Linked DNA regions of Homo sapiens: region 2 is linked to region 1. Evidence: fine-mapped expression QTL. A gene starts in region 1. The other region holds a variant in brackets. All regions are shown on one strand. Distances are from middle to middle.

Region 1 (4,536 bases):
TAAGTCCACAACTGAGAAATGATGCCCAATACCTACTGTACTTGGCGGATTCTTCTACCTTAAAAATTACATGTGTGCTTTCGAATTTTTTTTCACACTAAAACTCATTCTAATACAGAAAAGATTCCGTTTGTCAAAGTTTGGGAATTTATCAGCCTATGTAATGAACATGACATTCAAGAGGCATGACATATGGAAAAGAGCATATTGCAAACTTTTCTGGAGGCTGTTGTGCCTAACAGATAGTGTAATGTATTGAGGATTTCACATTAAAATAGGGAAGGAAAGTGTTAGCTCTTAGCCACTAAGGTCCTTTTAGTTATGTGTTGGACAGAGAAATAGGGCACTGTACCATTCCTATTAATGGAAAATGAGAATCCAACGTTTGTTTGTTCAAGTGGAGGTGGTTATAAGGTTCTGAGCCAGAGAGGTGGAAACAGAAGGAACACAGTTTTGAGCCAGAAACCTGTAACTCTCTAACTGTGTGAAACATGTAAGTTTCCACATCTGTAAAATGGGAATACTAATAACAATTTCACCATGTTTTTAAGGAATTAGATAATATATATCCAAAAACCAAATACATAGTAGGTGCTCAACAAAGATGTTCATCTACACAGAGCACACACATAGCAGATTATAACAATTATCTAGAGTTTTAAAAATGGGGAAAAAAGGACTAATTTAGCTTTATTCTTTATATATATATGTGTATGTGTGTGTGTGTATATATATATATATGTATATGTATGTATGTATTTATTTTTAAGACAGAGTCTCGCTCTGTTGCCCAGGTTGGAGTGCAGTGGCCCCATCTTGGCTCACTGTAACCTCTGTCTCCCGGGTTCAAGCAATTCTCCTGCCTCAGTCTCCCGAGTAGCTGGGATTACAGGTGTGCGTCATCATGCCCAGCTAATTTTCGTATTTTTAATAGAGACAGGGTTTCACCATGTTGGCCAGGCTGGTCTTGAACTCCTGACCTCAAGTGATCTGCCCACCTTGGCCTCCCAAAATGCTGGGATTACAGGCGTGAGCCACCGTGCCGGGACCCTGTTCTTAGACAAGGTCTATTTGTATGCTTTTAGGTTACTATTTGTAAGACCTGGATCTAATGGTACAGATACATAATCCCGTACAATGCTGACACTGATATTTAGTGTGTCCTAGGGAGATGAGGAGGGCCTCATAGTTCACAAAGGAAGGGGCATTTCACAGAAGAGAAAACTGAGGCTGGCCAATTTGCTTGCACCAGAGCATCTTGCTAGTAACTGGCCAGGCAGGGACTCGGGGTCAGTCCAGAGGCCACAGGAAAGACTGCTGAGACAAGGTTAGTTCACCCTCATCCGGGACTACGGAAGGCCCCCCCCAATATCTTACTCACATTTGATACATTTTCAAGCAACGGGAGCCACGTCTGTGGGCCTGAACCAAGGCTGGACCCTCAGGGGTGCCCTCTGCCCTTTTCCAGTCGCCGTCCCCTCCCTTCCGTTTGAGCCCACCACTCTGTGCCCCGGCCCAGAGAGTACCTTGGAGGCTCAGTCCGCGCGCTCCCTCCCCTCCATCCAGCCAAACCACCACCCAGTACCTCCAAGTGAACATCTGTGCCCAGGGCGTTAGGACTGTGATGAAGAGAAGCCATTTCGGATCGTATTGGAAGACTTTAAAAATATATATATACATATATATATATAAAGAGAGAAGCCGTCGCCGAAGCCCCCTCGGGAGACGCGAGACACGGAATCCCGGGCACGCAGACACCCCGCTGGTCCGGGATCCTGGGGCTCTCTCTGTCCCCGACCCCGAGTCACTGGTCACTCACCACGTGTCGCCTGCCAGCGGGCGCGGTCCCGGGCCTGCGGGGACCGGGTGGCCCCGGTGCTCTGGGCCGCACGTGTCGCGCTCTCCGCGCTCTCTGCCGGCGCTCGGGCGTTCCCGGTGCCAGCGCCCGCCCTCCCGCCTCCGCCTCCCGCCTCTGCGCCACCAACTCCGGGGTGGGCGCGGGGAGCTGGCGGCGAGTGAGGATCGGGCCGGGGCGGGGGTCGGGGCTGGGCGGTGGCCGCAGGGCGGAGAGGACTCGCTTCTCAGTTCAGCTCTGGAAGCGCAGCCGGGCGGGCGCCCGTGGTTTCCACCCCGCGGGTCGAAGCGGGCTCGGGTGGGATTCTGCCACCTGTGGGCTCTGCTGTGTCGCCTTGAGCAAGATAATTCTCTCTCCACCGTCAGTTTCCCCTCATATAAAATGCGGATAATAAAGCCTGTCTCATAAGACGGAGCAAGGGTTGACCGAGGTGAGGTGCGTTTATGCACCAAGATATGATAGGCGCGATAAAATCGTGTGCTCAGCGTTCACAGCCATAGAGACGTGGCACTTTGTTGACAGCCATCAGGGAACTTTCCTCGCAGATGTCCTTTCTCTGTGCTCTGCACCGCCCAGCTCTTACCACACCTGAGCGCCGAGGCCTCCCAAGTGGGCTGTGCACAAGACCGCCCACTGGAGTGCGGGCAGAACATACTGGAACTTCCATTTGTATTTGCTGTCTAAAAAATGAGAAAAAAGTTAAACTTGAACAGATGGCGTGTCACCACTCCCGTATAGGTCCCGTGTTATAAGTGGTGTTCTCAGGCAAGAGGGAAAACTGCCCAGAGTACAGAGGGGTCGGCAGCTCTGCATAATATTCATGACATAATATTTATGACAATATTACTTAGAAAAAAACTGTATTTAAACCTGTAAAGACAGACTCTCACTCTGTTACCCAGGCTGGTCTCAAACTTCTGGCCTCAAGCAATCCTCCCGCCTTGGCTTCCCAAAGTGCAGGGAATACAGGCCTGAGCCTCTGCACCCGTCAGCTTAGATTTCTTTAAATCTAAGACTTCCTTAATTATAAGATATACCATTATTTATGCGCTAGTAAGAAATAAAAAGAACTGCCAGGTAAACAATAACAATGCTTTCTCAACATTTAGAATCTTTTAAACTAAAATTTTATTTAGTTTAGAGATTTTATTTAGATATCTCTAAATAAAATTTAGATTTTAAACATATGTATATTATCTATCGAATTTTTTTTTAAGTCCCCCCCCCTCCCCCACCCCGTTGTCTCTGGAGTTTTCTTCTAGTCCACTGAGCCCAGTACAGGTTTGCTGAGCCCGCAGAAGTGGACAACTGCATACCACGCTTCTGGGCATTACCTTAAAACCGCTCTCAATGTTTGAGATGTTAAATATGAAAAATGTACATCTTGGAATCAACAATGTACAGTAGATTGTCTTTATGGGATTGTGACATACTGTAGTTTACATGCTTTAGTAATTTATCTACATGAATAATTTTACTAAAATCTTTTAAATCGTAGAATCTAGAATCTTAATATTACTTTGTAATGAGATGATACATAATTGTAGAAATCATTTGTAACAAAGATTTTAAAAGTTGTCTTAAAGTGAGTTATTTTCTTTATTTTTACAAAAAAACCCCAAATATCCTAAATTTGCTGATCTTTTCTGTATTGATATATGGCTCTCAGTACATGTTATCTAATAGATCTTTTTGAAGAACAAAAAACCCCAGAGGTTTATTTGTTGTTTCTTCAAGGTAATTTTCACACCAAGTGATACGTTGTTATGAAGAGACGATTTGAAAACAAATATTTCGAAGTGTTCCCATTATTGTGTGTTTTTCTTACTGAAGATTTTATGATTGTCATCACAGAAAATGCTTTTAAAAACTCGGAAACAATTTGCTATTTTGTTTCAATCTTTTAATTGAGCAGTTCAGTGGATTTTAAATCCATTTGTTAAAAAATATAAAAATGCAGCAGCTTCTCATTACTTTAAAAACTGATTGATATCAAGAATAAGATTATGATAGCCAAATGTTATAACAATCTTGCATAATTCATGGATTTTTCAACACTTTTTAGTGAGAAGGAAGGCTTTTAGTTTTGTTAATAAATCAATAATTTCAAAAATGCATTTTACTCTATCTCATTTAAAAATTTAATTTATATATTTGTGTGTGCATATGTGTGTGTGTGTATATACACACATATAAATATACATATGTTTTTCTGTTTTTTTTTTTTTGAAACAGCGTCTCACTCTGTTGCCCCGGCTAGAGTACAGTGGCACAATTTCAGCTCACTGCAACCTCCACCTCCCGGGTTCAAGTGATTCTCCTGCCTCAGCCTCCTGAGTAGCTGGGACTACAGGCACGCGCCACCATGCCCGGCTAATTTTTGTATTTATAGTAGAGATGGGGTTTCACCATATTGGCCAGGCTGGTCTCAAACTCCTGACCTCGTGATCTGCCCACCTCAGCCTCCCAAAGTGCTGGGATTACAGGCGTGAGCCACCGCGCCCGGCATACATATGTTTTTCAAGGAAATAAAAAAACAACCAAACATATGTTGGGGATGTTTCTCAAAAATGCTTTTTTTTTTTTTCTGAAGGAGTATACCATCTAAAATGTTGAAAGACCACTGCTCTATTAACTTCTAATGGCAGCATCTTACAAAATTGCAGAAGTCAGACACAAAA
Region 2 (4,000 bases), 25 kb before region 1:
CAGCAAACTACGGCCCATGGGCCAAATCTGGCCCTCTGCCTGTTTTAATACATCCTGTAAGAAAATGGTTTTGATAATGGTTGAAAAGAAATCAAAAGAAGAATCCGGCCGGGCGCGGTGGCTCATGCCTGTAATCCCAGAACTTTGGGAGGCTGAGGCAGACAGATCCCAAGGTCAGGAGATCGAGACCATCCTGGCTAACACGGTGAAACCCTGTCTCTACTAAAAATACAAAAAATTAGCCGGGCGTGGTGGCGGGGTGCCTGTAGTCCCAGCTACTCGGGAGGCTGAGGTAGGAGAATGGCGTGAACCCGGGAGGCGGAGCTTGCAGTGAGCCGAGATCGCACCACTGCACTCCAGCATGGGTGACAGAGCCAGACTCCGTCTCAAAACAAACAAAAGAAGAATCCTTTTTAGTGACATGTGAAGATTACATAAAATTCCAATTTCAGCATACATAAATAAAGTTTTGTTGGAACACAGCCATGCCTGTTTGTTTAGGTATTGTCAATGGCAGCTTGCATGTGACAATAGCACATTTAGCAGTTGCGACAGATCGTATGATCCGCAAAGCTGAAAATATTACTATCTGGACCTGTAGAGAAAATGTTTGCCAATCCACCAAGCTTGACTGTTATCAAATGTTTGCTATCCAAAATAATCTCTAGTATTTAATTGTTCACACCTATCTTATCTTGGCAATATTTTTAAATTACAAATGAGTGCATGAATTTCCTAGCTTCTCAATGTGGGAAGAGGTGGCTGCAGCTGGTAACTCTTCATTTTCTCCCCCTTTAGGGATTATTCACCCCTCACCCTTGCTGTCACCATGATGGGGGAAGGTTTCTCCTTTACCACTCTGCCCCTCCAAAGTACGAATGAACATGCAACGATTCCTTTGTTAGCTGTAATAGAGTTGAGCAAGATCACAAACTGCAAATAAGACTTTTTAAAATGGCGGATTAACAGACAGAGACATATTGGTAACATAGCTCTAAGGAATAGCTGATTAATCAGTATTTTGGCATCTCTTCCTGGGTGTTCTAAGTGGTGAGAGATCACCTTCCCTCAATACCTGTGCATGTTCTCAGGCATGTCTGGACACCTTGAGCTCAAATTCAAGAATGTTTTCCCACTACAAGGAAAATGTGGCTGCTCTCTTCCCAGTGTCACTATCAGGCCTGCCTTTGATGGATGCTGATTTCAAGACTGTTCTCTTAAACACAGCAAAGTAGTTTCTTTCCTCCTATCCCTTACTTTTCGGTCATTTAAAAAGTGTTTTTCAGTGATAGGAGCTGAATTTAATGACATAGTAAAGGGCCCTATGGAGTAAAGGAAGCCCTAACCCACTGTTCAAATGATATAAACAACTACACCAATCCACCCGGAGATGTTACATTTCTCTCAATTTTGAGAAGCAAAGGCTGCAAAAAGGCTGACTCTGTTGTAGAGTCATTCACAGTTTTAGAGAGTACCTAAAAAAAAAAAAAAAAAAGCTTACTATTAATTTTTTTTAAATGCCAAGTTACATATGAGTACACATTGAAAGGGTTAAAAGGAAGACGTGTTAAAAAAAATTCACACCTTTTACGTTTACATCAGTTGGTGTTTCATAAAGAAACTGATGACAGAAACAGCGGGTAAGGGGTGAAAACCAAGCAGCCTAGAGTAAGAGAAAAAAGACCTACAACAACCCACAGAAAAATCAAACATAGAAAAGGGAGATTCAGAGACAGAAAGGAAGCCAACAGAGCTTGGTAAAGGTGGTGTATCTCAGAGTATGGGTTTCTCTCTTTATGAATACCTTCAGTGACTGAATAAGCCAGCTTCCTAGGTTCAATTCATAATCATCCATGAGTTCATAACCATAATGAGTTGCTATACTCATTGTTATGATGGTGGTTTATTTTATAGGAAATAAGAAAGTTACTGTGCTGCCTTGAAGGAATTTTAATTCAAAAGACAAACACTTTTTAAAAAAGAAAAGAAAAACCTTTTCACACATCTCTAACTAGGTCATTATCATATGTGAGTAAGAATGACAAGAATTCACAAGCCCAGAGTTTCCCTAGTTTATAGTTTAGCTTAATGTGATATAACTTAAATATTTTTCAGACTACTT[A/G]CTACCTTGAACTTGGATATAAAATATAGCCCATTTTCAGAAGTTTTATCTGTACCACATATATAAACAAAATCTAATTCATGAGATAGTCTTTAAAAAAATTACTTTGACTATATATAATAAAACGATATTATGAGTAAGCTCTGGATTATAAAAGTAACAACCAGAGGGCAAGTGGTTCAACATTAAGAGATTTTATTATAAAATGAGTGGTAATAAATTATCATTTGTTGGATAAATTCACTTTTAGACAATTTTTAAAATATATTCTGTAATCCCAGCACTTTGGGAGGCCGAGGCAGGTGGATCACCTGAGGTCAAGAGTTCGAGACCAGCCTGGCCAACATGGTGAAACCTGTCTCTACTGAAAATAACAAAAATTAGCCGGGCATGGTGGCGCATGCATGTAATCCCTGCTACTTGGGAGGCTGAGGCAGGAGAATCACTGGAACACAGGAGGCAGAGGTTGCACTGAGCTGAGATTGTGCCACTGCACTCCAGCCTGGGTGACAGAGCAAGACTCTGTCTCAAAAAAAAAAAAAAATGCAATTAATACAAGAAGTAAGGAAGAATATAAGATTATTCTATGAATCATATATTAGGTATTATATTCTGCTAAAGGCCCTTCCGTTCCTTGAATGTCATTGATGTATGATTGCTAAGGATCATCAGTTATCAAAAGCCATTAGTAGCTCACAGAAAATAAATGCAACTTAATTATGAGGCTAGTTTACATGCACACATATCCATAAATTTCACAAATAAGAATTTAGATTTTGCACGTTAATGTTACAAAAGCTCCAGATAATGAACAATGGATTATATGCCAAAAAGTTTTTCTCTGAGTCAAATTTATATAAATTATGAAAGACTCTCTACTATATCACTAAATGAGTGCATTTATTTATTTATTTATTTATTTATGAGATGCAGTCTCGATCTGTTGCCCAGGCTGGATTGCAGTGGCACAATCTTGGCTCATTGCAACCTTTGCCTCCTGGGTTCAAGTGATTCTCCTGCCTTAGCCTCCCGAATGGCTGGGATTACAGGCACGCACCACGATGCTTGGCTAATTTCTTGTCTTTTTGGTAGAGATGGGATTTCACCATGCTGGCCAGGCTGGTCTCGAACTCCTGACCTCGTGATCTGCCCACCTCAGCCTCCCAATGTGCTGGGATTACAGGCCTGAGCGACCATGCCGGCCTAAATGAGTGCTTTTAAAAACTAATATTCAGATGGCTATTTCTTGTGTCTCCAAAGATTTAATATTGGCATAAAGTTTACATAGGCATTTTTGCTTCAATAAAATATTTTCTTATACTTCAATAACATTCCCTTCCCAATAATTACTAAAAAAGAAAAATTCATCAGACTGAAAAACACATTTGATATCCTTTTCATAGTTATGGGTGGCCAGGTGGTTCTCATTTGTGCAGTAAATATCAAAGGCTTGAAGTACAGTGTTATAATATTTGGACAAGAGAGGATTGCTGGATGCTAAATTTTATTTTGAAATATGTGTCTCCAGAGCCTACTTTCTTTCAAGCTTTCCATATGGCTTATTGAGCCACATTACTTTTCATAGAATCAAAAATATAAAACATATGAAGCTTTAACAAGAAATGAGATTAATTACTGGTTATAGCTCTGTGAAATAAGTTACTGAGATAGTAAGAGAGATAAGTTATAACCAAGCATTATAACCAACATGACTGATAGCAAACAGGAGTAGAACTTACCCAATGTTAAAAATTTCCTTGCAACACAAACATATTTCCTTGAACAGTTTCAGCACTTAAGTTAATATAAAAATTAACTTGTTAACTAATGCAGTCATGCTTTTTGATTCAGCACCAGTAGTTTAAAGATTCTATTCCA

The links. PIP is the estimated chance that this variant, and not a neighbour inherited with it, causes the effect.
Region 2: its variant is fine-mapped to the expression of IL12RB2 in whole blood (TOPMed, PIP above 0.99).

The regions. Positions count from the first base shown.
Region 1 is chr1:67,305,251-67,309,786 of GRCh38, reverse strand. It overlaps IL12RB2 (interleukin 12 receptor subunit beta 2), which reads right to left and starts at 1,914. Exons shown (of 17, transcript NM_001374259.2): 1 at 1,820-1,914. RefSeq lists a silencer at 1,862-2,051 and enhancers at 2,512-2,561, 2,592-2,691.
Region 2 is chr1:67,330,885-67,334,884 of GRCh38, reverse strand. All of the region lies in intron 8 of IL12RB2 (interleukin 12 receptor subunit beta 2), which reads right to left. Among named protein-coding and RNA genes, the nearest start is that of IL12RB2, 25 kb to the right of the region's middle. The variant A/G (reference allele first, on the strand shown) is at 2,123.